Linked DNA regions of Homo sapiens. The protein of the gene in region 1 interacts with the protein of each later gene in a pairwise test. Each region holds a gene or a part of one and is shown in the gene's direction. Other genes may lie near its edges. The genes, in order: CYCS, COA7, APAF1 and BRWD1.

What was found.
Region 2: the proteins of CYCS (region 1) and COA7 interact in binary tests that used the Homo sapiens proteins (3 or more experiments, as listed by UniProt).
Region 3: the proteins of CYCS (region 1) and APAF1 interact in binary tests that used the Homo sapiens proteins (3 or more experiments, as listed by UniProt).
Region 4: the proteins of CYCS (region 1) and BRWD1 interact in binary tests that used the Homo sapiens proteins (3 or more experiments, as listed by UniProt).

What each region holds. Positions count from the first base shown.
Region 1 is NC_000007.14:25,117,821-25,122,586, reverse strand, and holds the end of CYCS (cytochrome c), read left to right. Parts: 3' UTR 1-3,931; downstream 3,932-4,766. UniProt on the Homo sapiens protein: Electron carrier protein. The oxidized form of the cytochrome c heme group can accept an electron from the heme group of the cytochrome c1 subunit of cytochrome reductase.
Region 2 is NC_000001.11:52,688,348-52,696,568, reverse strand, and holds part of COA7 (cytochrome c oxidase assembly factor 7), read left to right. Parts: intron 1-3,701; coding exon 3,702-3,842; intron 3,843-8,221. UniProt on the Homo sapiens protein: Required for assembly of mitochondrial respiratory chain complex I and complex IV.
Region 3 is NC_000012.12:98,640,135-98,649,182, forward strand, and holds the start of APAF1 (apoptotic protease-activating factor 1), read left to right. Parts: upstream 1-5,155; 5' UTR 5,156-5,701; intron 5,702-8,184; 5' UTR 8,185-8,225; coding exon 8,226-8,363; intron 8,364-8,491; coding exon 8,492-8,681; intron 8,682-9,048. Other genes in the region: IKBIP (inhibitor of nuclear factor kappa-B kinase-interacting protein), read right to left, coding at 4,389-4,567. UniProt on the Homo sapiens protein: Oligomeric Apaf-1 mediates the cytochrome c-dependent autocatalytic activation of pro-caspase-9 (Apaf-3), leading to the activation of caspase-3 and apoptosis. This activation requires ATP. Isoform 6 is less effective in inducing apoptosis.
Region 4 is NC_000021.9:39,184,505-39,192,376, reverse strand, and holds the end of BRWD1 (bromodomain and WD repeat-containing protein 1), read left to right. Parts: 3' UTR 1-4,959; coding exon of another isoform or gene 4,960-5,351; 3' UTR 5,352-6,895; downstream 6,896-7,872. UniProt on the Homo sapiens protein: May be a transcriptional activator. May be involved in chromatin remodeling. Plays a role in the regulation of cell morphology and cytoskeletal organization. Required in the control of cell shape.

The sequences.
Region 1 (4,766 bases):
AGGAATGCCTGTGGTCATAGTTTTGTGATGTGTAACAGTGTATAATTACATACTGAATTATTTCATGCATAGTCTGTGCCATACACATTTAGAGTAGTCCTTGGAGATTTTATGGAGATGGTGAGCACAAGGTAAGTCATAAAGAATAATGAGAAAATAAATCTATGCTGGTGCAGCTGAGAACTGTATCTTTGTGGGACAGTGAGAAGACTGAGAAGATGTGAATCCATGGTCTCAAAGGTGATAGGGACGATTAGATAGGTGTTTTAAGGCCTGAAAGCAATTTATAACATATGAGTCTTATTTTTATTTATAGAAATGTGGAAAGCTTGCTGTAATTCATATTTGAAGTCCTAGTCTGAGTTCTGGTGGGGAATTTAAAAATGCATCCTGGAAATCCTTTAAAGATTTCAGACTTTGAAAGGCCTTGTAGCAGAGGACTTGGTGACTGTATAAAGTTAGTGGTATTCAGGGACAGTGTAGCAAGTAGCTTACAAGGGGACAATTCTGGACTAATGAGAAAGACCTGAAGTGAAGGCTAGAGAGTTGATTTTTTTTTTTTTTGGCATCCTGGAAATGATACAGGAAACATATTAAGATAGATACAGAAATGTGTTCAACCTTCCATCTTGGCTAGTTGTGGCGTTTAGTTTGTTTTTTGAGACATGGTCACGCTGTGTCGCCAAGGCTGGAGTGCAGTGGTGCGATCTCGGCTGGCTGCAACCTCTATTTCCCAGGCTCAAGCGATTCTCTCACTTCAGCTTCCCAAGTAGCTGGGACTACAGGTGTTCGCCACCATGCCCAGCTAATTTTTTTGTAGAGATGGAGTTTTGCCATGTGGTCCCAGGCTGGTCTCAAACTCCTGAGCTCAAGCAATCCGTCCACTTGCCTTGGCTCCCCAAAGTGCTGGGATTACAGGCGTGAGCCACCAGGCCCTGCCTGGTTTTCAAATTCAGAAATCTTATTATTTAACCCAGAAGTAATCAGCCCAGTAGTAACTTAGGTTTAATTTTTTTTCAGGTTTAAAATTTTTCTCATTTATTTTTTCTGAGACGGAGTTTCGCCCTTTTCGCCCAGGCTGAGTACAGTGGTGCAATCTCACTGCAACCTCCGCCTTCCAGTTGCAAGTGATTCTCCTGCCTCAGCCTCCTGAGTAGCTGGGATTACAGGCACCCGCCACCACGCCTGGCTAATTTTTGTATTTTTAGTGGAGATGGTGTTTCACCATGTTGGCCAGACTGGTCTTGGACTCCTGACCTCGTGATCCACCCACCTTGGCCTCCCAAAGTTCTAGGATTACAGGTGTGAGCCACCACGTCCGGCCAATTTTTCTCATTTCTATGCCTCCTATATTAAGGTCTGTGTTGGCACAGATGAGTAACTGCCATGTTCTAGGTCAGTTATACCCAAGCACTTCTGGTGGTTTAAAATGTGATTCTGTAACTTTTTTATTTTTATTTTTTTGAGATAATTTCACTCTTGTTGCCCAGGCTGGAGTGCAATGGCGTGATCGCTGCTCACCGCAACCTCCGCCTTCCAGGTTCAAGCGATTCTCCTGACTCAGCCTCTCAAGTAGCTGGGATTACAAGCATGCGCCACCATGCCCAGCTTATTTTGTGTTTTTAGTAGAGACAGGGTTTCTCCATGCTGGACAGGCTGGTCTTGAACTCCCGACGTCAGGTGATCTACCTGCCTCGGCCTCCCAAAGTGCTGGGATTACAGGCGTGAGCCACCACGCCTGGCCAATTATGTAATTTTTTAAAAAGGACATTTCTATCAGGGATATATACCTTCAGAAATAAGGAAATAGGGGAAAAAAAGAGCACTATAAACCACATGTTTTCATTTCTAGTGCTTCGCTGTAAGTGGCTAGGTTGGTAGAATCAAAAACAAGGGCCAGATGTATTTAAGGGGTATTCAGATGCCACCTACATGCTTATTTTGTCTAGAACAGTGCTGTCTAATAGAACTTTCTGTGACGATGGATATTTTGTAGACTTTTGCTGTCCAGTGTGGTAGCCACTAACCACATGTGGCTGTTAAGCCCTTGAAATATAGCTAGTGTGACTAGAAAGTATTTTATTTTAAATTTACATAGGCACAAGTGGCTAGTGGCTACTGTATTGACATTCTGGGTCTAGGACTAGAACCAGTGGTCTGTAACAAAAGTACTTTCTCTTTACTCTATTAAATCTAGAATTAGCCGGGCATGGTCGCTCATGCCTGTAATCCCAGCACTTTGGGAGGCCAAGGCAGGCAGATCACTTGAGGTCAGGCGTTTGAGACCAGCCTGGTCAACATGGCGAAACCCTGTCTCTACAAAAAACATAAAAATTAGCCAGGTGTGGTGGTGGGCACCTGTAATCTCAGCTACTTGGGAGGCTGAGGCACAAGAATCACTTGAACTTGGGAGGTGGAGGTTGCAGTGAGCCAAGATTGTGCCACTGCACTCAAGCCTGGGTGACGAGTGAAACTGTCTCCAAAAAAAAAAAAAAATCTAGAATTCTTGGAAGTACATTATATTGCCCTTCAGAATAGATTCCAGTTCCTGTTGTGCTCACCTTTATAATTTTACCATAAGTTTTACCTATTCGTAAGTTGGCAGTTTTAGATAGATAACATTCTGGTGGTAGCTAGGGATTTACCTTTTGTCATCCTTTTCCTGCACTTCTCTTGAATTCCTTTATAGATGTACAGTTTTGCTTTAACCACTGAAGATTGCTGTAAATTATAAAGGGTGTGATAGAATCCACATGGCTGTCAAGAAGGAGATCTTACCAAGGACAGTTGACTGACTAGTCTCAGATTGTTTCATATCATTTATACTTGGGTAAGAGTAAACTAGATAACTGGGCGTCGTGGTGCACACCTGTAGTCCCAGCCACTCTGAGGCAGGAGGACTGCTTGTGCCCAGAAGTTCGAGGCTGCAGTGTAGCTGTGATTGTGCTACTGCACTCCAGCCTGGGCAACAGATAAAGGAAACTCCATCTCTTTTAAAAAAAAAAAAAGTGGTCTGGGTGCAGTAGGTCATGCCTGCAATCCCAGCACTTTGGGAGGCCAAGGCAGGCAGATCACCTGAGGTCAGGAGCTTGAGACCAGCCTGGCCAACATGGTGAAACCCCATCTCTACCAAAAATATAAAAACTAGCTGGGCGTGGTGGCGGCACCTGTAATTGCAGCTATTTGAGAGGCTGAGGCAGGAGAATCGCTTGAACCTGGGAGATGGGGGTTGCAGTGAGCCAAGACCGCCCCATCGCACTCCAGCCTGGGCAACAATAGTGAAACTCCGTCTCAAAAAGAAAAAAAGTTTCCTTAGAATGGAAAATATTCATTCATGAGCTCTTTTGGCAATCCGTCATCAGTATATTCTGAAAACCAATAAGATGTTGCCAAGTTGGGGGCGAGAGCTATGTAATGCAAGGCATATGCCTGATGAAGTATACAAATACACCTGACCAGAAACTTTGTCTCCCACATAAGTCTCTTCTAGGCACTGTCGGGGTACATACTGAGCTGCTGCTTTGGCTGTATTTTCTGTGCCTCAGAATAACCATTGTCCTGGTGTTCATATCCTTAGAGTTCAGTACAAAATGTTGGATATCCATTTAATAGGTTCCAGGTTATCTTAGTTGGAGTTTGGGGTATTTGAAAACGTCATGCCTTCAGGCTATCATTTCCCTCAGAAAGCTAAGTAAATTTACTGCATTCATTTCTCAAAGAGTAAAAGTGCAGGTTGTATGTGTCTATGAACATTTAAACATGTTAAAATGTTAAATTTAACATTTTAAATTTAAACATTTAAATATGTCTGTAACTTGAACAGTGTAGTTTCAGAAAGGACCACTGGGCTAGTGTAATGCAGAAAATGCTGGGTCTAGGATTAGGAGAAAATTGTGTTTAGTGTGTATCAATAAACAGCCCGTGGACCCAATCTGACCAGATGCCTGTTTTTGTAAAGAGAACTTTATTGGGCTTGGTGCAGTGGCTTATGCCTGTAATCCCAGCACTTTGGGAGGACAGGGCAGATGGATCACAAGGTCAGGAGTTTGAGACCAGCCTGACCAACATGGTGAAAGCCCGTCTCTACTAAAATACAAAAATTACCTAGGGGTGGGGGGCGGTGGGCACCTGAAATCCAGCTACTCGGAGGCTGAGGCAGGAGAATCGCTTCAACCTGAGAGGCAGAGGTTGCAGTGAGCCAAGATCACACCACTGCACTCCAGCTTGGGCAACAGAGCAAGACTCCGTCTCAAGAAAAAAAACTTTATTGGATCACAGTCACATTCGTTAGTGTATTGTTTAGGGCTGCTTTGGGCTACAACATTAGAGGTTAGTGGTTGTGACAAAGCCTAAAATATTTAGTGTGGCATTTTACAGAGTTTCTCAGTTCTGTGTTTAGAGCTTTGCTTTATCAATCTGATTAACACAACGTTGTATTTGTGGAGAATGGGAATAAGCACCTCAAAAGATTCACTGAATGATGTGTGAATGCCTGTAACTGGCAAGCACAGAAAAATTTGTTCATATCTATGTCAAATTCCTTGAAAGTCACATAGTGAAAAGTCACTACTTCCAAGGTTAGCAAGAACCTATTTGTCGATATTTTCTATTCTCAATTGACTCAATCTGTGTGACATCTGACACACTTGACTGCTCTTATTTTCTCACTTCCCTCAGTTTGTTAGTTTCACATTCACATAGAATGAAACAGACATAAACATCGTTATGTATGTGTAGCTGTAATAATCTCTTGATAACCCACATAC
Region 2 (8,221 bases), on another chromosome or scaffold:
CGTAACATAGACCATAACACAACCATATACATATCATAACATAGTCATGACACAGAGTTGCTCTGCAGTATGATGGCTTGAAAAGAACCTGGGGTTGGGCCGGGCACAGTGGCTCACGCCTGTAATCCCAGCACTTTGGGAGGCTGAGGTGGGCAGATCACCTGAGGACAGGAGTTCAAGACCAGCCTGACCAATATGATTAAACTGTCTCTACTAAAAATACAAAAATTAGCCGGACGTGGTGGCATGCGCCTGTAATCCCAGCTACTCGGGAGGCTGAGACAGGAGAATGGCTTGAACCTGGGAGGCGGAGGTTGCAGTGAGCTGAGATCGCGCCATCACACTCCAGCCTGGGCAACAAGAGTGAAACAACGTCTCAAAAAAAAGAACCTGGGGTTGTTCTTTGAGAGCTGGTCCATGTCCTAAGTATAGAAAGAACTTAGAGGAATTGGGGTCACTAAGGAACAGGGTGGTTAGGGAAGACTTTGAGGGGAGGTCTGGAGGGCTGGGCAAGTGTTGATTAAATGGAGGAGAGGGTGGGAGAAGAAAGTGCTATCTTTTGGAAGGTTGAAGTCAGGATTTAGTACGTTTGAAGCGGGAGTCTGGCCCACAGTATGTCAGGGCTTGAATGCCAGGGTAAGGAATATAGACTTTGCTCTGTAGGCAATGGAGAGCAAAACATGTCTGAGAAGCAAGTTCTTGGAATTGGGAAGGGTGGATATATCAAAAGGACTGGCTGCAGCACTTTACGAGACCTGAGAAGAGGCTATAGTTACCGTAGCGACTGGTGTAGTAGTTCCTTGCATGTCCCACTTTCTTACCTGGATAACTGAAGTCGCCTTCTAACCTGTCCCTCTCTTTGCACTTTACTCCCTTAAAATCCATTTCTACTCGCAGATAAACTGATATTTTAATTTCAATTTTGTTATGTTAAATATTAGATTTTAAAATAACCTATTTGTTATCAATGCCCAATTATATACCCTCACATAATTAAATTCCTCCATACTCAGGCATATATGAACATATATACCAGAGTAACGTTTTTGTTGGGGGGTGGGGTTGTTTGTTTGGTTTTGGTGGCTTTTTGGTTGTTTGTTTTCTGAGACAGGGTATTACTCTGTCGCCCAGGCTGGAGTGCAGTGGTGCAATCTCAGCTCACTGCAACCTCTGCCTCCCAGGTTCAAGTACTTCTCCTGCCCCAGCCTCCCAGGTAGCTGGGATTACAGGCGTGTTCCACCACGCCTGGCTTTTTTTTTTTTTTTTTTTTTCCCTGAGGCTGAGTCTTGCTCTGTTGCCCAGGCTTGAGTACAGTGGCACGATATCAGCTCACTGCAACCTCTGCCTCCCGGGTTCAAGTGATTCTCCTGCCTCAGCCTCCCAAGTAGCTGGAATTACAAGCGTGCGCCACCAAGCCTGGCTAATTTTTGTATTTTTAGTAGAGACGGGATTTCACCATGTTAGCCAGGCTGGTCTAGAACTCCTGACCTCGAGTGATCTACCCGCCTTGGCCTCCCAAAGTGCTGGGATTACAGGCATGAGCCACCACACCTGGCCTGAATCATATTACTTATTTTCTTGAAACCCTCCAGTGGTTTACTGTTTCAGTTGGAAAAAATCATAACTCCATCCTATGTTTCACGAGGCCTATGGTCTGGTCCCTACCTTCCTTCTTCATTTCCTGACCCTCCTCCTTGGTTCAGCCATGTTGTACCTTATTCGTGCCAAACTTATTCTTTCAGGTCTTTGTATTTACTGTTCCTTGTGCCAGGACTTTGTGCCCCTGCCCATTTTATTGTCTTTTAATTTCATTTTTTATTTTTTATTTTTAAATTTTTTCCAAATCCCTGCCCCACTCCCATTTCATTGTCTTTAAATAGCTAGTGCTTTCTTGTTATTGAGGTCACAGTCCTTGGTGAGCCCCTCCCCAGTGGCTCAGTCTTTGTTAGCCATTCACCCAAAGTTGACAGCAAACAGTTATCCTGTTTTACTTCAGTCATAGCATTTATGTATTTATTTGTATAAATTTAAGGGGTACAAGTGCAGTTTTGTTACATGGATATATTGCCTGGTTGTGAAGTCTGGGCTTTTTTTTTTTTTTTTTTTTCGAGATGGAGTTTTGCTCTTGTTGCCCAGGCTGGAGCGCAATGGCGCTATCTCGGCTCACCGCAGTCTCCGCCTCCCGAGTTGAAGTGATTCTCTGCCTCAGCCTCCCGAGTAGCTGGGATTATAGGCATGCGCCACCATGCCCGGCTAATATTTTCGTATTTTTAGTAGAGACGAGGTTTCTCAATGTTGGTCAGGCTGGTCTAGAACTCCCGACCTCAGGTGATCTGCCTGCCTCGGCCTCCCAAATTGCTGGGGAAGTCTGGGCTTTTAATGTAACCAACCATCACCCAAATAATGCACTTGTACCTGTTAGGTAATTTTTTATTCCTCACCATCCTCCCACCCTTCCCAATCTCCAGTGTCTATTATTCCACACTCCCTGTGTCCATGTGTACACAGTATTTAGCTCCCACTTATAAGTGAGGACATGCAGTATTTCACTTCCTGTTTCTGAGTTGTTATAACATTTATTACTGTTTGAATAAATTTTGTTCATTTATTTATTTATTGTATTTCCTCCCCTAGAATGTAAATTTTAGGAGGGCAAATGAGTATATTCTCAGCATCTAGAACCATGTCTGGTACATAGATGCATAGAGATGCTCAAATATTTGTTGAACGAAAATGAATGAGAGATATATGTTGTCACTGGGGGTAAAGAAGAGGGGAGAGAGATTAAGGAAAGAGGTTTACTGGGACTGGGAGACTGCCAAGGAAGTAGAGCCTATTTTCATTAGAAGCTGCCGCCTCTACTCTTTCTCTTTGGCTTTCATGTTCCTACCCTGGCTGAGGAGTAAGCTATAGTCATTACAGCACCCTTTTCTTTTTCTTTCTTTCTTTTTTTTTTTTTTTTTAAGACAGAGTCTCGTTCTGTCACCCAGGCTGGAGTGCAGTGGCGTGATCTCGGCCCGCCGCAACCTCCGCCCCCTGGGTTCAAGCGATTCTCCTGCCTTAGCCTCCCAGGTAGCTGGGATTACAGGTGTGCGCCACCACACCTGGCTAATTTTTTTATATTTTTCCACTCCTGGCTAATTTTTTTGCATTTTTAGTAGAGACAGGGTTTTACCCTGTCCAGGCTGGTCTCGAACTCCAGACCTCAAGTGATCCTCCTGCCTCAGCCTCCCCAAGTGCTGGGATTACAGGCATGAGCTACCGAGCCTGGCCCAGCACCCTTTTCTTGCTGCTACAAAGACTAGCCTATGAGCCTTTTAGGTTTTCACTGTTTTTACCATTTAACTTCATGAGAGATTCCAAAACTAGCAAAGTTTCAATCATGGAAGTCAGTGGATACTTGGGCGTGGCTGACAGGGAGCAGAAGGGCTGGTGAGTGGTAGAGCCAATGCAGGGGCTGAGGTCTCCCCAAGCCATGCATTGCTCAGTCCATGGCTGTGGGGAGACAATGCCATTTGTAGGAATGGCTAAACACCACCTACATTCTTTGTGGTAAGGCCAACTTGCCACACATCAGGAGGACAGGGGCTGTCTTAAAAGACATCACCTGGCCTGCCACACCTGGGCACCCCCTACCCCCAAGTCCCCACTGCGAGCAGCAGCCCCAGACATGAAGAACAACCCTTGCCCTCTTCTCGCAGGTTGCTATCGGCTGGTGGACTATTTGGAAGGGATCCGGAAGAATTTTGATGAGGCTGCCAAGGTGTTGAAGTTTAACTGTGAAGAGAACCAGCACAGTGATAGCTGCTACAAACTGGGGGCCTACTATGTGACTGGAAAAGGTAAGGAGGGCCTGCCTTTTGGGTCCTTGTCATTGATAGCAGTGCTGGCCTCACACCTGAGCCCCATGATAAGCTCTTGCAGAAGGGTCTCGCAGGCATTGGGAAAGTGCATTGTAGGAAGATGGAGAGGTAGGAGTTCAGCAGAGTGATGGGGGGAAGAACACAGCCTTTCAAGTTAGGTAAACCTTAGGGAATGCTATTGGCAAGTAGTGGGACCTTGAGCCAATCACTTCGACTCTGTGCCTCAGTTACATCACCTGTAAATTGGAGGGAAATAGTACTTGCTTTGTAGGGTGGTGAGGATTAAGTAGGACAGCATAGGAAAAGGCATCAGCATGTGCTTGGCACAGAGTAAGGGGTCAGTAATTATTGTCTTCCTTCTGTCTTTTCTCCTTGTACTCTAATTGTAGTTATCACTGGCATAGTGTTTACATTATCTATGGCTAAATAACAAAATAGTTATTTTTGTTCACCTCAATAGTTTCTGTGGGTCAAGAATTTGGGAGTGGTTTAGTGGGGGTACCTCAGGGTATCTCATGAGGTTATAGTCAAGACATTGGCCAGGGAGCCAGGGCTGGAGACATTGGAAGGCTTGACTGAAGTTGGAGTTTCCAATTCTAAGATGACTCACTCTGATGGCTGGTAGCAGAGGCCTCTAGTTCCTTACCAGCTGTTATTGGGAGAGCTCAGATCGTCATGACATGGTTCGCTCCATGGGCTGCTTGAGTGTCCTCATGACATGGCGTCTGGGTTCCCCCAGAGTGAGTAATTTAAAGGAGACAACAAGATAGAATCCACAGTGTCTTCTATGACCTATCTTTGGAAGTCACACACTTTTCATTTCTATCACATATTTATTAGATGTAGCCTACACTAAGGGGAAGGACTTAAATTCCACTTCTTGAAGAGGAAGGAATATTAAAGAACTTATGGACATATTTAAAACCACCACAGGCCAGGCACGGTGGCTCATGCCTGTAATCCCAGCACTTTGGGAGGCCAAGGCGGGTGGATCATGAGGTCAGGAGTTCAAGACCAGCCTGACCAACATGGTGAAACCCCATCTCTACTAAAAATACAAAAAAAAATTAGCTGGGCGTGGTGGCGCGCACCTGTAATCCCAGCTACTCAGGAGGCTGAGGCAGGAGAATCACTTGAACCCTGGAGGCAGAGGTTGCAGTGAGCTGAGATCGCGCCACTGCACTCCAGCCTGGGCAACAGAGCAAGACTCTGTCTCACAAAAAAAAAAAAAAAAACACACACACACATAAATAAGTAATAGGACCTTTGACAGGCAGCTTTTTTTTTTTTTTGTGACAGGATCTTGTTCTGTTTCTCAGACTGGAGTGCAGTGATAAAATCATAACTCACTGCAGCCTTGAGCTCCTGGGCTCAGGCAATCCTCCTGCCTCAGCCTCCCCAGTGGCTGGAACTATAGGCACGTGCCCCCATGCTTAGCTAATTTTTTATTTTTTGTAGAGACAGGATCTCACTATGTTGTCAGGCTGGTCTCAAACTCCTGGCCTCAAGCAATCCTTGCACCTTGGCCTCTCAAAGTGCTAGGGTAAGGTGTGAGCCACTGCACCTGGCCAAGGATGTCTTTTTTTTTTTGAGACAGGGTCCCGAGACAGGGTCCCACTCTGTCGCCCAGGCTGGTGTGCAGTGGCATGATCTCGGCTCACCACAACCCCCTGGCTCAAGTGATTCTCCTGCCTCAACCTTCCGAGTAGCTGGGATTACAGGGGCGTTTGCCACTACCACCCAGCTAATTTTTGTATTTTTAGTAGAGATGGGGTTTCGCCATGTTAGCCAGGCTGGTCTTGAACTAACCTCAAACGATCCACCCGCCTTGGCCTCCCAAAATGCTGGGATTACAGGTGTGAGCCACCGTGCCTGGCCCCATTTTAATTTTTTAAACTAAATTTTAGGCCAGGTGCAGTGGCTCACTTGAGCCCGGGAGGTGGAGGCTGCAGTGAGCCGAGATTGCTTCACTGCACTCCAGCCTCGGCCACAGAGCAAGACTCTGTCTCTAAATAAATAAATAAATAAATAAATAAATGTAAATAAATGAAAATAAAAATGATTCTAACCTTTTAATATTTTTTCTAAACTCTTGATAGCCCTAGTGGCTCATTTAGGAAATGTCACTATGGGCTAGAAATATTAATTTGTAGGTCAGCAGTTTCCTTAGTTTCACTTCAGTTTGGTTTTCTTCTGATAAATTCAAGTAAAATCAAAGTTAAATTTTTTACTTACAAGTAGCATTTGTGATCCAATTTTTCCAAACACTTCTATCTAGTATCCATTCAACCAGCCAGCATTTAATCTGAACACATGCTACAAAGATGACTGGAATGGTGTTCACTTAATGATAATGATGGTTATTTCTAGGTGGATTTGGAATGGTTACTTAAAAGAATAATGTTAAAATGTTTATATTTTTTGAGATTGAGTAATGGTACATGGAGATTTGAAGTTTTGCACACACACAAACAACTAAAAAAAGTGAGCCCTGCCACCACTTCTACTTAAAATTATTTGTTAGTGATTTCCCATTGTTTTTAAGATTAAATTCAGGGGTCTTAATGTGACCCTGCATGATCTGGTCCCTGCTTGCTTGCCTGCCTTGCACTATACTTTTCCTCCATGCTCTTTTTACACTTAAAATCATCTTTTTTTTTTTTTTCTTTTTTTTTTTTTGAGACAGAGTTATGCTCTGTCATCTAGGCTGGAGTGCAATGGCGCGATCTCTGCTCACTGCAAGCTCCACTTCTGGGGTTCATGCCATTCTTCTGCCTCAGCTTCCTGAGTGGCTGGCATTACAGGCCCCTGCCACCATGCCCAGCTCATTTTTTTTGTATTTTTAGTAGAGATGGGGTTTCACCATGTTGGCCAGGCTGGTCTCGAACTCCTGACCTCGTGATCCACCCGCCTCAGCCTCCCAAAGTGCTGGGATTACAGGCGTAAGCCACCGCGCCCAGCCTGATTTTTGTATTTTTGTAGAAATGGGGTTTTACCATGTTGGCCAGGCTGGTCTTGAGCCTCCTGATCTCAGGTGATCCGCCCACCTCGGCCTCCCAAAGTGCTGGGATTACAGGCGTGAGTCACCACGCCTGGCCTCCTGTGTATTTTAAATCAATTACTTAGAACAGGGGTATTCAATCTTTTTGCTTTCCTGGACCACATTGGAAGAAGAGTTGTCTTGGGCCATATATAAAATACAGTAATGATAGCTGATGAGCTTAAAAAAAAAATCACAAAAAAAATCTCATAGGCCAGGTGAAGTGGCTCACGCCTGTAATCCCAGCATTTTGGGAGGCTGAGGCGGGCGGATCATGAGGTCAGGAGTTCAAGACTAGCCTGACCAACGTGGTGAAACCCCGTCTCTACTGAAAACACAAAAATTAGCCTGGCGTGGTGGCATGCACCTGTAATCCCAGCATTTTGGGAGGCTGAGGCAGGAGAATCGCTTGAACCCTGGAGGCAGAGGTAGCAGTGAGCCAAGATCACGCCACTGCACTCCAGCCTGGGCGACACAGCAAGACTCCATCTCAAAAAAAAAAAAATAATAATAATAATAATTTCATAATGTTTTAAGAAAGTTTATGAATTTGTGTTAAGCCGCTTTCAAAGCCATCCCAGGCCCATGGGTTGGACAATCTTGACTTAGACTATCTAATACAATGTAAATACTGAGTAAATAATTGTTCTATTTTATATATTTTGTATTTTTTAATTGTATTGTTATTTTTTCCCTAATATTTTTGATGTGTGGTTGGTTGAACCCATGGATATGGAGGGCCCACTGTATGTTTAAATTAATAAACAATTAAGTGCTTGTCATATGCCATGTTCTCACTGTAACCCCATGAGGTAGATATTATTATCATTCCCAATTTTCACCTCCTTTACCTGTTTGAGTTTCCTCATAAGGTATCATCTGAATAAAAGATTCTACGGCTGAGAAAGCTAGGAGGTCTGTGCACTATGCCAGGCTACCTTTCATGCTGCCTGAGCTCATAGTATGGACATTTTTTTTTCTTTTTGAGGTAAAGTCTTGCTCTGTCACCCAGGTTGATCTCGAATTCCTGGCCTCAAGCAATCATCCTGCACAAAGTGCTAGGATTACAGGTGTGAGCCACTGTGCTCAGCCTTAAACTTTATTCAGGAATTGTTGTTGGCCAGGTGTGGTGGCTCACGCCTGTAATTCCAGCACTTTGGGAGGCCAAGGTGGGAGGATCGCTTGAGTCCCAGAGTTTAAGACTAGCCTTGGCAACATAGTGAGATCCTTTCTCTACAAAAAAATTTAAAAATTAGCCAGGCATAGTGGTTGGTGTGTGCCTGTAGTCCCAGCTACTTGGGGAGGCTGAGATGGGAAG
Region 3 (9,048 bases), on another chromosome or scaffold:
ACTTTTATAAAGGCAATTTAGGCCAGGCACGGTGGCTCACGCCTGTAATCCTAGCACTTTGGGAGGCTGAGGTGGACAGATCACCTGAGGTTGGGAGTTTGACACCAGCTTGACCAATGGAGAAACCCTGTCTCTACTAAAAATACAAAATTAGCTGGGCGTGGTGGCGCACACCTGTAATCCCAGCTACTCGGGAGGCTGAGGCAGGAGAATTGCTTGAACCTGGGAGGTGGAGGTGGAGGTTGCGGTGAGCTGAGATTGCGCCACTGCACTCCAGCCTGGGCAACAAGAGCAAAACTCCATCTCTCAAAACAAAACAAAACAAAACAAAACAAAACAAAACAAAAAAGCAATTAAAAAATCTATTGAAGTTTCCATAAGAAACAAAATTTTCACAATGGAAATTCCAGCTGATTAAATTTCTATGTAATTAAATAAGCATGAGTGACAGGTTTTGTGTCTTGTTTAGTAATTTAACAACTTTTTAACTTTCTGAAAGTAGAATCACCTCAATTCTTACCTGAAAAATTTCTATAAGAGTTTAGAAAAGAGCTATGCAAACTGACACTCAAGCCATATGGGTTTGGGCAACTTATCTCCAGTGTTTATTGTCAAGATGACATAGGATATATCAGGCCTTTTTTTTTTTGCAGGGTCTCACTTTGTCACCCAGGCTGAGTGCTGTGGTGCAATCAAAGCTCACTGAAACCTCAAATTCCGGGGCTCAAGCAATCCTCCAACCTCAACCCCCCAAGTAGCTGGGACTACAGGCATGCGCCACCATGCCTGGCTAATTTTTTGTATTTTTTGTAGAGACAGGGTTTTACCATGTTGCCCAGGCTGGTCTTGAACTCCTGAGCTCAAGATCCGCCCAACTCGGCCTCCCAAAGTGCTGGGATTACAGGTGGGAGCCACCACACCTGGCCTATCAGGCCTTTATTTAGCAGAGAGAAGATATTAAAGCAACACACTTTTAAGTTTCTTATGTATTATTTCTCTTTTCTTTCCACATAGGAAATGGTCTGAAGACAATGATATAGTGTGATTCCTTGAAATCCTTCTTGGGCAGTGGAAGGGTTCAGATTTTTTCCCTCCAACTTAATCAGATGAAGAGTGAGAGTAAGCAGTATTTAAGAGTACACAGACAGGCACACATATGCACTTGTATTTTAACCACCAGGGCCGTGTCAGTACGGAAAGCATTTAATAAAGATTTGATAGACCGACTTTTAGATGCTGAATTACGTGTTTTAGTGGTAAAGATCTCAATGGCTTTGTCAAAATTCTAGTGAGCTTTTAAGTATTTTAAGATGCCAAATACTTGCTTTTTATCTGGAAAATGTTTACAAATGTCTTATGGGGATATATTTTTATTTCAAAATTTACTATGAATAAATATTTTGCAATAAACAGCAACCAAAGTACATTTGCTTCAATTTTTGCAGCAAAAGATTTCACAAGAGCAACTAAGAGGCAACTATTTAAATAATAATTATAGAATCTGCCCATAAAAAACACATATAATACATACATTTTAGAGAGACAGGGTCTTGCTCTGTCTCTCAGGCTGGAGCACAGTGGTATAATCATGGGTTACTGCAGCTTTGACTTCCCAGACTCAAGCTATCTTCTCACCTCAGCCTCCCAAGTACCTGGGACTACAGCGAATGCCACCACACTTGGCTAATATTTAAAAATTTTTCGTAGACACGGTCTCACTATGTTTCCCAGGCTGGTTTCAAACTCCTGACCTCAAGCAATTCTCTCGCCTCAGTTTCCCAAAGTGTTGGGATTATAGGCATGAACCACTGGGTCTGGCCCCCAAAATTATTTTTGATATAGCATTGTGTTATCATTTTGCAAACATAGTTCAAATTAAATCTTCCTAATGAATGTAATACATTCATTACAATGTAATACAGGAATCACTAACAGCAAATTCCTGATGTGAGGGAAATTTTATTCCCATAAAGTTTAGTTTTCTATTAAAGCTTATCCCAGGATAGTAACTAACTTTCCCAAAACACAAAAGGTTACTTATTTATTTAGGCGAAGTCTCGCTCTGTTATCCAGGCTGGAGTGCAGTAGCAGATCTTGGCTCACTGCAACCTCCACCTCCCAGGTTCAAGTGATTCTCCTGCCTCAACCTCTGAGTAGCTGGGATTACACCAGGCCCAGCTAATTTTTGTGTTTTTGGTAGAGATAGGGTTTCACCATGTTGGACAGGCTGGTCTCAAATTCCTGACCTCAAGTGATTCGCCTGCCTCGGCCTCCCAAAGTGCTAGGATTACAGGCGCAAGCCACTGCACCTGGCCCAAAAAGGTTTTTTTTTCAATTTACTTAAAGGAGGTCAAGCATTTTAAGGCATAAGAGCCGTTTATTTAAAACAGTAAATTCAGTACATTTATTCCTTTCAGATCAAAATTAACATATTCCGTATTAGTAAAATAAATAATGCTATCTGCTTTTTTTTTTTTTTTTTTTGAGAAGGAGTTTTGCTCCATCCTGCAGGCTGGAGTGCAGTGGCACGATTTCGGCTCACTGCAACCTCCGCCTCTTGGGTTCAAGTGATTTTCCTGCCTCAGCCTCCTGAGTAGCTGGGATTACAGGAGCATGCCACCATGCCTGGCTTTTTTGTATTTTTAGTAGACACAGGGTTTTGCTATGTTGGCCAGGCTGGTCTCAAACTCCTGACCTCAGGTGATCCACCCACCTTGGCCTCCCAAAGTGCTGGGAGTACAGGCATGAGCCACTGCCGGCAGGCTGACAATTCTATTGTTTTTGAAGAGGGCGTTTAATCACTTTATTGTGACAAAATTTTGTTTGTTTGTTTTTTGAGATGGAGTCTCGCTCTGTTGCCCAGGCTGGAGTGCAATGGCACGATCCCAGCTCACTGCAACCTCCACCTCCCCATTTCGAGTGATTCTCCTGCCTCAGCCTCCTGAATAGCTGGGATTGCAGGTTTGTGCCACCAAGCCTGGCTAATTTTTGTATTTTTTGTAGAGACAGGGTTTCACCATGTTGGCCAGCCTGGTCTTGAACTCCTGACCTCATGATCTGCCCACCTCGGCCTCCCAAAGTGCTGGGATTACAGGTGTGAGCCACCGCGCCCAGCCGTAACAAATCTTTTAACTCTGAAAAATACACTATTTGGGATGAGTCACCAGTAAAGTATAATTCCATATGTAGTAGCATAAAAAATGTCTAGATGTCCAGGGTCTCTTCTAAAATTCTATCACTCTGGAAGATTAACAACAGTCTTACTAAATAACTTTACACATGAATGAAAAATGGAGAAAAATTCTATTAAGATGCCAATCTTATTAAAATGAAATGGGCTATTCCCTCCTCCCGCCAGAAAAAAAAAGGCTGGGAAAATAAAATTCACAAGTTGGTTTTTTTCTTTTTTCTTTTTTTACGAGTTGGTTTTAAGGTTATTTCTAATATTCATTTTTCCTAATGACACCAATATATCGCCATTTACCTGATTTTAAAACTGCAACTGGTTAGTTTTAAGTGAACACAAGTGCTATGTTTTTGTAGCTTTACCATATTCAATCTGTAACTTACTTAATAAAAGACCTTAAATTCATAATGCATGCACGGTGATCAAAATATGAGCACTCCTCCAAGCTCTGCTACTATAACGTTTGCTCCTTTGGGAGCATAATGATATGGTTTTCTTTTTTTTTTTTTTTTGAGACGGAGTCTCGCTCGGTCGCCCAGGCTGGAGTGCAGTGATGCGATCTTGGCTCATAGCAACCTCCGCCTCCCGGGTTCAAGCGATTCTCCTGCCTCAGCCTCCGGAGGAACTGGGACTACAGGCGCCCGCCACCACGCCCGGCTGATTATTCGTATTTTTGGTAGAGATGGGGTTTCACCATGTTGGCCAGGCTAGTCTCGAACTCCTGACCTCAAGTGATCCACCTGCCTCGGTCTCCAAACATAATGATCTGTTTTAAGGTTGCAAGTATTTCCATTAGGTATTTATGGGGTGAGTAGGGTGGGGCAGATGTGTCCCGGAATGGGGCACAGCGGACAGGAAGTAACGGTTTATAACAACGTGAACGCTTCTGACGTGTAGCGGGAGCTTCAGAAAGCGTGGCCGAATCTGCAGCTCTTAACAAATGGCTCGTTCCCAAACCTTAGCCTCAACTCCTTCTGAGCGATAGGGGCATGCTACCAGCACGGGGGGAAATGAGATACAAGAAACGCCCGAAAGGGAAAAACAAGGCTGGGCTGTTTCCTTCCTTTGGGGTCAAGACAGAGGCACAGAAGGCCCAGGTCTGGGAGGTTGGATCACCTCCGGCTGGATGTTGAGCCGGGTGGGAGCCCAAACAGCAGGGGGCCCACAGGAGGCCGGCCCAGGCAGCCTCGCGTCCACTTACCAGGCCAGGCCCAGGCACGTCCCCAGCGACAGCAGGCTCAGGCACGTTCGGGGGTCTGCCCAGCCCCCGCCTCCGCTGCTCCGGGCCACGGGGGTCTTCCCGCCCTCGCTCCGCTTCCCGGGCTCCGCAGCAGGGGCTCCCTTGGGCCCCGACTTCTTCCGGCTCTTCACCTCAGACATGTCTGGAGACCCTAGGACGACAAGCCCAGGGCAGCTTCTTCACCAGGGGGAGCAGGACGTGGCCGCCTTGGCGTTCGTGGGAACCCTGGGCGGTGACCGCGCCCCCTCACAGACTTGGCACCGCCCAGAGCCCAGCCCCTTCCCTCTCCCCGGCATCCTCGTTGCTTCACTGAGTCTTTCAGCTGCCAGCTCCATAGTTCCCCTAGGAGAGGTGGGCGGCGACCTCAACCCACAGCGCCTTCCACTGCGATATTGCTCCAAATCCGAGGAAATTCAAACTCCCGGGCGCGCGCAGGCCGACGGGACCCGAGGAGGAGGGGCAGGACGAAGGGGTCGCGCGCGCCACGTCGGGCGCGCCGCCGCTGCCCGAGTCCGGCATTGGTGGGAACGCGGCGCGTCCCTGAGGCTTAGCCACGCCCCGTCCGCGGGGTAGGCGGGCACTTCTACGCGCGCGGGCATGAGCCGTGGCAGGAGTGCGCGGCGGCAGCGGTGGCCGCCCCTTGGGGCTTGGGGTGTGTTTATTTGCATAAGCGGGCGCGCGCCGTCCGGGCTGGGTGGATCCGGCGGGATTTGACTGCTCCGCTGTCCAGAGGCGGAGAAGAAGAGGTAGCGAGTGGACGTGACTGCTCTATCCCGGGCAAAAGGGATAGAACCAGAGGTGGGGAGTCTGGGCAGTCGGCGACCCGCGAAGACTTGAGGTGCCGCAGCGGCATCCGGAGTAGCGCCGGGCTCCCTCCGGGGTGCAGCCGCCGTCGGGGGAAGGGCGCCACAGGCCGGGAAGACCTCCTCCCTTTGTGTCCAGTAGTGGGGTCCACCGGAGGGCGGCCCGTGGGCCGGGCCTCACCGCGGCGCTCCGGGACTGTGGGGTCAGGCTGCGTTGGGTGGACGCCCACCTCGCCAACCTTCGGAGGTCCCTGGGGGTCTTCGTGCGCCCCGGGGCTGCAGAGATCCAGGGGAGGCGCCTGTGAGGCCCGGACCTGCCCCGGGGCGAAGGGTATGTGGCGAGACAGAGCCCTGCACCCCTAATTCCCGGTGGAAAACTCCTGTTGCCGTTTCCCTCCACCGGCCTGGAGTCTCCCAGTCTTGTCCCGGCAGTGCCGCCCTCCCCACTAAGACCTAGGCGCAAAGGCTTGGGTAAGTTGACCTCCTCGCTTTTCTCCCCGAGCCAGGTTCTTTGGAGGCTTGGTAGCTGATTTCAGGGACTGAGAATTTGAGGACATGGAATATTTGATAACCATCCTGCTCCTGTACCAGGAAGAGAAATTCTGTAATGAGGAAGTAGTAAACTTGGGGTTTTCGTGGATAAACGTGCGCTGTTTTCTGTTTTACGTCCATGAAGAGTTTTGGCTTTCCATTTTGTTGTGGGTTACAAAAGGTTTTGAGACTTAGTTCAGATAAGTTGTGCAGTTTTAAAACGTATTTAAGATTTGCATATTTTAGTTTAACAGGACTAGGTGAAATTGGAAATTAGTTTCAGAAAACCAGAGTGTCTTATTTGCTTAGCTATTGGACATCACCTAAAAAATTCATTCATTCTTGTTTTTTCACATCGAATTTCATTACTATAAATTAAGGAACATTTTATGTTTAAGAGGACAAAAACGTTATTAACATTTTAAAAAATGAGAGTTTTGATTCGAATCAATAACTTTTTATCAGTTTTGTGCCCCTGCTGGGCATTTTGTAAGCCTTGACAAGCATAGGCAAATGCCCTACGTCCGTCCCTGTTTTTCCAAGTGCTACATTTGGTGACTTCAAAAACAGTCATTGAAGCTTGATAATTATTGCCCCCTTCTGTGAGCTCCAAGTTACTTGTGCTCTGTTTTTGCACTTCGGGCATTCACATTCCCACTCTCTCTCTCTTTTTCTTCTTTGAGTAGACTGTGAATTATTTCAGGCAAATGACTCAATCTTTTCTGTAGTCTTGGTGTCTGACATATAGGGAGGGGCACAAATGTGTATTGAATGAATGAATTGATAAACCCGTTTAGACTCTTTCACTCTATACATTGTGTAAAGTTCTGTTAATGTTTTGAAAACTTGCAGATATTGTGAACTGGGTTTTATGCCCATGGAAAAATTTGCATTATATTTGAAATAAAGTTGCTAGAAACGTCAAGTATTTTACTATAAAGGCTGTTATTCTTTCCTCATGTCCTCCTGGTCTGAGAAATCACATCAGAAAGTGTTTCCTGTTGCTTTGTGGGAAATGTGTTTAGCAAGGAGGACCTAGAGCTGACATCCTCCTTGAACGAGAACTAATACTCAATAGTAACAATGCTCTATTCACTCTTATGTTTGATAAGGAAAACAAGAAGTCTCTTAATATTAGGACTTCAATGTAATCACTATTTTATACAATCTTAATTAAAAAAGGAAGTATTTTATTGTAAGAAATGATAATGTGTGCTAAAAAAAATTGACAGTAGAGGCCGGGCATGGTGGGGCTCACAAGTGTAATCCCAGCACTTTCGGAGGCTGTGGCGGGTGGATCACCTGAGGTCAGGAATTCAAGACCAGCCTGGTCAACATGGTGAAACCCCGTCTGTACTAAAAAAAAAAAAAAAATAAGACAAGGTGGGGGAGAAATCCCAAATTTTGCTACTCAGAAGTAACTCAAACATTTCGATGAATAAACTTCTAAACGTCTATATATATTCATATGATACCAACACTTGTTTTTTTTTTTGAGACAGAGTCTCAGTCTGTCGCCCAGGCTGGAGTACAGTAGAGTGGTCTCGGCTCACTGCAACCTCTGCCGCCCTGGTTCAAGCAGTTCTCTTGCTTCAGCCTCCCGAGCAGCTGGGATTACAGGCACCTGCCACTGCATCTGGCTAATTTTGTATTTTTAGTAGAGACAGGGTTTCACCATCTTGGCCAGGCTGGTCTTGAATTCCTGACCTCGTGATCCACCCGCCTCGGCCTCCCAAAGTGCTGGGATTACAGGCATGAGCCACTGCGCCCGGCCCCCACGTTATGTGTTGTATGTGGGATCATGTTTCTGTTTTTTTTTTTTTTTTTTTTCAGCAACAGTATTATGAACATCTTTCCATGTCAATACATGGAGATATGTGTCATAATTTTGAATGGCTGCATAATATTCCATTTTATATACATACCCTAATTTTTAAAATCTATATTCAGAATGATGGACATTTAGGTTGCGTTCATCACTGAAACATCCTCCATTAATTCTTTTTTCTTTTTATTTTTTACTCTAGCCTCCCAATGTGCTGGGATTATAGGCTTGAGCTACCACACCTGATTGGAAACTCATTAATTCTCCTTGTGGATATTTTTACATATGTATTTGAATGTCTCCTTGAAGTAAATCCTTAGAAATGGGATTTCTGGGTTAGAGAGAAAGCTTATTTTAAACAATTCCATATCTTACTGCTTTCCAGAAAAATTGCATTCATTTTCTAGTTTCCCCAATTAGTGCATAAGAATGGCCATTTTCTCATACCTTTCCAAGCACTGGGTTTTGTCCATTTAAAAATTTTTGCCAAGGAAAAAAAATCAGTTTTGTTCTTTTTACGTTTCTTGTTTATTAGTGAGATTATGTATCTTTTCATATTTTTATTGGCCTGACAAATATTTTGGTGTTTTGGCTGTAGCTCATGGTTGACAGCTCAGAGAGAGAAAGATCTGAGGGAAGATGGATGCAAAAGCTCGAAATTGTTTGCTTCAACATAGAGAAGCTCTGGAAAAGGACATCAAGACATCCTACATCATGGATCACATGATTAGTGATGGATTTTTAACAATATCAGAAGAGGAAAAAGTAAGAAATGAGGTAAAGCTCTCTGAAGCAGTCCACACTTCCTTAAAAATTTTTAGAATTTCAGAACTTGTACTGGTCTCCACTACTTTATGTTGCATACATATTCATTGTTGTATACTAAACTACTTAATTTTTTTTAGCCCACTCAACAGCAAAGAGCAGCTATGCTGATTAAAATGATACTTAAAAAAGATAATGATTCCTACGTATCATTCTACAATGCTCTACTACATGAAGGATATAAAGATCTTGCTGCCCTTCTCCATGATGGCATTCCTGTTGTCTCTTCTTCCAGTGGTAAAGATTCAGTTAGTGGAATAACTTCGTATGGTTTGTATCCATTATACCTTCTATCACTTTGCTATCAAAATTGCTTTGGGTTTGTCTTATTGTAGATGTAATCTTTTGAAGAGAGTGTGACCAGTTCACTGAAAACTGCATGTTAAAAAAATTGTAGTGATGTTTTCAATTTAAATATTTTTTATTTGCATCCACATTAACTCTCAACTTTTCTTCTTGCCCAGTGAACTGTACTGCTGAGATAATAATATGTCTACCCTAATTTTTAGAGACAATAAGACAATTTATAGGCCCTTGTTTATTTTCCAGTTCTATGTGTTTATAGAGTTTATAGGAAAAAATAAGAATCTTTAGAAATATATGTTCTTGAAAGGTATTCCATAAATGTTCTTCCTTT
Region 4 (7,872 bases), on another chromosome or scaffold:
GAATAAATTTGTCAAAACTAGGTGAGAAAATAGAGCATTGTGGGAAAAACTGAGTCCAACTAGATTAGCAAATGTTAATTCCTAGCTCAAACTGTGAATAGTAAGGATTGAAAAGTAAAGTATGTAATGCTAAGGGCTGTGTTGTCTTTTCTTACGATTTTAAGTTTTAAAGGCTGTTAAATTACAGAGATGTTGCCCAAGGATACATGGGGATTCTCAAAAGTAAGAGATTTTTACCTTTTTCATAATCTGCCAAGCTGGTTCCTAATATATTGTTAAATTGGTAGAAAAATATCTTTAAATTGGTGTCTGCTCAAGAATTGCTTTTCTAGATTTGATGGAGGGAGGGGGAGAGTCACATCATTTGGATTCTACCAATCTGCAGGCTCTATCTTTGGCAACATGTAAATAATTAGACTATACATCTGTTTCTCAAGTATGGCAAGACCAATAGTTTGAATTTAATTATCAATGCTATGGTATACTTTCTGGTCATATTTTAGTTATGTCAGTTTTAAGGTAAGTTTTTTCATTTATTAAAGCCCTTAAATGAGATTTTAGACTGCCAAAGAGAAGAGGCAGTCCAATTGACCTAACTGAAATGAGATGACCAGTATATAGAGCCTAGATGGACTGTAGCAGCTCTACCCCTTTGTTTTACAAGGTAAATCATTTTAAAAATTACCTTTTTTGATCAGTGGGTAAAAGTTAAAGGGATCTTTAATTTTTGATATATTCAAGTTAATTTTCTAAATGTGAATCAGTCCTTGGACTGCAACTATATATTCACCTACAAAATCCCAATCAAAAAATTACATGAGCCTGTCAAGCAGATCTTTAGTTTTCCACTTCACATAAGATCGTTAATGTTCTAAATTAATCTATTCATTTAGATGATTTTTGTCAGTTCTTAAATGGGATATAATAAATTTAGCATTTTCATCTTAACAAGCAAAAGAGTTAAAAAACAAAACAAAACACTACTCCAAGCCAAATACATTCTAGCTGGTTAATTCCAGACTTGTCCCAAGTGGTTCCCCAACCTCTTTTCCACTGGTAATTTCTTTTCATGCAGGCAGAATATAGGGGTGCGAGCGCTGTGAGTTTTACATATGAGCTTGGATAGGGGAACTGAAGCGAGTCAGGAGCCCTGCTGGAAAAGGGGTTTGCCATTGGATTGTCTGTGGCCTGGTTTCTTTCCAGTAGTACAGTAATAGGGTAGATTGAAAACAAGTATTTACTTCTGATTCTGCCTGCATTTAGTGTGAAATGCTCTTAAGGTATTGCTTCTAAAAAGCAAATTAAGCAGTTAAGTATAAAGTCCCTGAATTCATATTTCAAAATAAGGCTTTTATGAGATTTTTATTAAAAATTGCAATAGCCATCACAAATCTGAGTTTTTCTAGGGGTGAGAGAAAACTGTATTGTGATGAGCTAGATTAGTTGTAGTTCCAGAATAAGAACAAAAATTCAGAGTTGTGTGGTGCCCATCATTGAGTAAATGAACCCTAAAAATGAATAAGCTAATGAACTAGTTCATGGAATTATTTCTGATGGTCTTTTGACCTGATGCTGCCATACTGCAGTGTTACCAGCTCCCCCTAGAAAACGGAACTGTTTAAAAACACAGCAAGTTACAGAAACCATTTTATTCTACAGCCATTGGGGTACTTCAGTTTATGGGATGTTTTTGGAAACTTCTGCTTTGGGAGGGATGAAGATCATTGATAAATGTTATTTGCTTTCTGAGTTTTGGGGTCATTTCATTGCTTATCAATGAAGGGCAGACAGAGGAGAGAATATCTCAAGTCTTTTCTGATAAAAGGCTTGCTTGAGGGAGCTTATAACTTGCACCTAGAGGGTTTACCCACTTTGTGGATTTGATTTATCCACCAACCACAGCAACCAATAATGTCAAGATTCTAGGAGTTTATGAAAGAGGCTAGTATGTTTTCATTTTGAGTCAGACATTCTTTTCTCATTCTCAAATCTGTTTTAAATGCTCCAATTTTAAAAATGCCAATGAAAATTTTATAATGCTTCTGTAGTAACCATATGCAGTTTACTTTGAATTTAGGAAAACAGTTTTGTATGATGAAATATTGTGCAGAATCTGTAAATAAGGTAGCTTAAAAATTAAAAAAAAGTCTAATTAGAATATGATTAATCCTTGAAATGTAGAAACTAGAGATTGTGTTGAGTCAGAACTGTTATGTTTGTATCCAGGTTTCTATTCACCACATATACCATCTTAGAATACACACATATCTGTGAGTTATAATTTAAAGTGGTCATCCAGGGAAATGATCATGGAGTGCTACTACAGATGTACAGTTTTACACTACTGATGTGTTCTTGCCATACCCAAGTAGGGAATCACTTCCAGGAAAACAAGTCCTCAAGCACTCAATGACTTTGTAAACCCATGACTGAAACAAGACTCATCTGAGGCAGTAGGACTGGTGGGATTCTACTGACTTCTTAGTATCACATGGCACCATCACAAATGCATTGTTAGAGCAGCAACATCCAGAGTTCTTAAGCTTGTACCCTAACACACAAATTTGACTTCTAACCCTGAAATATCCTATATATATTTCTAAAACTGTTTGTAGTTTTCTTGAGAAAAAGCACTTTATAATTTACTCAGTTTTCAGTAATAAAATTAACACTGACTTGAATGTATTTAAAAAAATTCTCCACAGTTTTGTCTTCCTCAGATTGTTTTTATCCTTATTCTCTGAAATTCCTGTTTTATTGTCTAAGACTTAAGAGATTCAGCTTTATCAAGTTAGAGTACAGTGTAATTCAAATTCTCCCTCCCTTGGGCATAGTTACTGAAGTTCAAATTTCCTTAAGTATTTTTTAAAAACCTGATTTTAGTTTTTTTTTTCCTGCAGAATCTTAACTTTTCCATTATTCTGGATGACAAATAAACATTTATTAAAATGTGTTAGAATTAGTATTTACTAGGTTCCTAAATTGTCAGTATAGGTACTTTGATCACACATCAAAATGGAATTTCTGCAACTTAAAGCATTTTGTTACAAATTGTAGTTGAAATAGAATTTTATCTATTTGTCTGGATGAATAGGTTGTTGGGAATGAACCAGTTATCTGTTCTTTTCTTCCAAATGCAAATGGTGCAGCTAGTTGATAATAGTATATTCTCATCCTACTATAAAGTGCAAATTTCACCTTAATTTTGCATATTTTAAAATTTTTGTTTACCCTTTGTAGCATATTTACATTTTAGCATTTGCTAACATTGATTTAATGTGTTAAAGATTCATTTTGGATATAGGGTTGACTTGTTGGAGATACTAGTTCATAATTTTAAAATTCCCAAGAGAAGTGTCTTTGAAGTGGTAAACACAGTGCACTTTAAGCCACTTCTCTTCCCACAGAGTCCAGCTGAAGGAGGTAAGGGCATGCTGCATGAGAGTAATGCCGTGATGAGTGTCTTACTCTGGTAAAATGCCATTTACAATGCCTGGAGACTGAACACTGAACAAAACATAGTGCCCTTAGAATTTCACTGGAAAAACATGTGAATCACATAAGTTAGTTGGCAAAAGGAACTGATGTGTATGTGGTGGGGTTGCTTTGAATAAAGTATTTCCTAACCTATTCTGGGGAGAACGCTCAACTGATCTTAGAGAAGTGTGAAATCAGTTTCATAGACTTAGGGAAAAATCTGAAGTGCTTGCACTGTGAGGGCAGAGGCCTGCCTCATTAGTCTAGCTGTATGAACATGTCAGTCCACAGAAGCAGTTTTTACCTGTACTCATCTGCCCTTCAGTCAGCTTTGTGACAGAAGGGCAAACATCTTCACAGAAGAAAAAGTTCAGAAGGTTGGCATTGGTGGTTTCATTGCTACAGAATAATAGTGTTACTTGATAGTATCTGACTAAAAGAGCTCTCATTTTCTAGTACTTAGTAGTAAAAAGAATGTGGTGGAGTCCTCCAGATGTCTAGTGTGGGTGGAGGATATCAACTGGTTATTTCAGTGATCTACAGCCTTACCTTTTGAATGCTAAATGTCTGGAAACTTCAGGCAGGGTCCTACAAAACAAACTGCCATCAAGATTGGTGTGTACCATGAAGGCAGTTTTAGATAGTTTGACTGTTCATGGCTGCAAGAAAGACCTAAAATTCAAGGGCCCGTGAACTTCAGATACGTAAAAGGAATATCACTTCTGTTCTAGAAGAGTACTAATTAGACTTGTTTGTGAAATTTGAAAATTTGGCTTTGAGACACTGGTAACAAACATATCTGAGCCCTCCTAAGTTTGGTCAGCACGGAGTAGTAGCTCTGGCATCATGTGGCTGTGTAGAGCTCCAGTGTGATTTCAAGCCCCCTCTAAAAACTGCCTTAGTCTGCATGAAGTAGTTAACTCTCCAAAGTGCTTTTTGTCTGGCAAATCCCTTCACAATTTTCACCTCTCGTCTAAAAGCTTCCTTAAAGGAAGCCTTCCTTGATCCCTTAGGCTAGGTTAGGTTTCCAGTCTGTGTTCTCATAGCACTCTGCACTTTTTGGTTCCTTAAAGCAACTCTGTGTTATTTTTTAGAATTTTAATCTGAATCTCGTGTGTCACATACCTAGGTCAGAAAATACTGGAACAATGAAGTTAAGATTTAGTAATTCAAATTATGTAAAATGCTCATATATATGTTTTTAGATTAGCAGCTTTATGATGCCGATGCTGAAGGAACTTTTCACCCCATTCTTACAAGTCTGCTACTGTTTTAAGTGACATCCTTATAGTTGTAGATAAGCAAATGTAAGGTTATATCAATGTGAAGAAGCCCTTAGTATCACATTTTAAAATTTATCATTTAGCAATATGACTTTTAAATTTATTGTTTCCGAATGAGTGTTGTTGAGGAATGTTAGCAGTAGTAAAATCTTGTGTTACAAGATTTTTGCATTTACATGAACTTTCACTCATTTTTCAGAATTTGTTCCTAGAGACAGAGAACCCAATACAAAAGTGAGAACATGTATGCATAATCAGAAGGATGCAGTGCAGATGCCTAGTGAAACTCTGAAAGCAAAAATGGTACCTGAGAAAGTTCCCCGCAGATGTGCTACTGTTGCTGCAAATAAAATAAAGATAATGAGTAATCTAAAAGAAACGATCTCAGGACCAGAAAATGTCTGGATTAGGAAGAGTAGCAGAAAACTGCCCCATCGAAATGCTTCTGCTGCGGCTAAGAAAAAATTACTGAATGTTTATAAAGAGGATGATACAACCATAAATTCTGAAAGTGAAAAAGAGCTAGAAGATATTAATAGAAAAATGCTTTTTTTAAGGGGGTTCAGATCCTGGAAAGAAAATGCACAATAGTGACTATGAGAATGTAGAAGTGGCATCTGAAAACAATTGGTACACAAGTAAACTGGCAGTTACATTCTGCTCCCAGCTCTAAAATTACTCCCTTATTGGCATCTTTGGAGGAATTTTCTAAAAGCCATAATCCAGTGGGTTCCTCCCAGTCAGCTCTTGTACAGACATGTGCTCTGGGGAATTCTGAGGAGGAAATAAATTGCAGAGTCTGTAGGTGGAGAGGTGGAAAGAAAAGACAAATGGCCTGCTATAAGACTACTATTCCTTTCCAGAATGCAAGGCCTTGAAGACATGATTCCTTAGAGGAAGAATATAATGGGAAGTGTACAGGCTAGGAAGAACTTGAAGTGAACAAATTTCAAAATCTTAACCTGATGCTAATTTTCAGGGTTCTCCATTACAGTGTAAAAATTCAGACCACGACAACTATGGTGTCATGAGGAAAAAAAATCAGGCATTTTTCCAAAGGAAGTGCTAATGGGCCTATTTGACTTCTGAGTGAAGCAAAAACTACCCAGATCCATTCCCTACAATTCACATCCCCAAAGGTCAAAAACAAACTAGGAGGACCTGGGAATTTCAGCTGGAGATACTGATTATTGAGTTCTGAAGTAGAGTGTTGGAAATAGGCAATTAGAGAAAGTCCATTGATGTCATTTTGTTTATAATATTGCAGTTCATACTGAATGACCACTTGATATGACTAATTCAGGGAATATATATTTTTCTATGAAAGCTATGAATGTTACTATCACGGCTTTTCCTTATTTTTACTTGTATGTAGCAGCATTTACAGAAATGCCAAAAATGTGCCTCATTAAGAGGCAGGTCTTAATCAGTTAGATAAAAATAAAATGTATAGCTTAAGATCAAAACAGTCATATTTTTAGATACAGTGAAATCTTTTATGTTTCTCTACAGCACCTTAAAAATTAGAACTTGAATACTTTGAGTAAACTTACTACAATCTCATCCCAACAAACTTTAATGGTAGCATGTTTGGCCTATTTCATTGTGGCCTGTACTAGGATTAGAAAATTTGGTCGTGGTATAACAAAGAAGTGTATTTACAATAGGATTTAATTTGTTGTTAATATGTATTTGTTGAAATTAAAATTGCCAGATTAAATGAATATACTGTCGCATCTTTTTAACATAGTAACGTGTTACTGGAAAAATTAAGTTGTTGAAAGTAAGTTGTTTTCCCATTTAAAAATATCTGAATATATGATTTGCATGTGTAAATCTGAAAAACTAAACTACAGAAACCTAGGGTTTTCTATTTCTTTTTTAAGTCAAATGCATTTTTTTTTTTTTGTTATACAGATGAACCAAGTGTCTAAAATACTTGAGAAATTTGTGGTTGCATGTCTGTTTTAAAAAAAAGGCTTTTTGTTTTTTAGCATAAGCCAGAATATTCTAACCTACTAAGTCTGTGTCCTTTGCTCCTTTTGTAGTATACTTTCATCTAAATTACTGATCCCCAATATGTTGATACACAGGTGAGAAAGGGAAGAATTCCTAATAAACTGCTATTACTTTTAGGTGCATGGGGTTTGATTTTTGAGCTCTAATGAAATGCTTAAACTTCTTTCCAGTTCAAATTTTACACTTAATTTATAATATTTATTGAGTATATTATGTCCTCAACAAGTAACTATAAAATGAAATACTTAACTCGGTGAAGACTATTTTATGCAAAGTTTTTTTTTTTTTTTTTTTTTTTTTTTAGCAATTTCAGTGTAATGAAAGAATTTAAGCTTTGAATTTATAATTTGCTGTGGTGGGGTTAATTTCTGTCAGTATTTGAGATTGTATTATCAGTCTTGCATAATGAAATCCTTTTTTGGCTAAGTATTTAATTCGAACATATTTGCCTTTTTAAAAAGTGCTTGGCCTAAACTTATTGTAACTGCATGAAATAAGCATTTGCTTAAAACTTAACATTGTAAAATTGTTCTCTCTGAAATGTGTGCAGAATTTAAATCATGGCCAAATGTATTACTATTACCCTATTTACAGTAATTTGCTTTGCAGAAAATATTTCTTCATCATGGAACTGTGAAATCAAATTGAAGATCTTACTGGTAAAAATGACAAATTAACAAAAGGACTAAGACAAGTGGTGCCCAAACAACCTTTTTATTCTGCAGTTCCATCATCATAATAGACCAGTTAACCCAGGAGTCCTAATGTTTTAAAACATCATTGTGGTGATCTTGTTTATTCTATCTCACTAAGGATATCCAGTTTCCTAAGCTCTTACTGGCTAGCAATTTCGTCTTAATTTTATTGCTAAATGTTCAAATTTTGCTTCCAAACTCACTTTATTTTTGCAGATGTGTACATCTGCTAAGTACTAATTTTATGTAAATGATTTTGTTGATTATCTTTCCACATCTTAAAATGTTTCTAACAGCTTTGAGATTTTATCTCAACAGGCTCTCTCTGACCCCAAAGTAGTACTTACCTTCGTGACTACTGACAAAGTCACAAAATGCAGGCGATGTCATGTATTTCG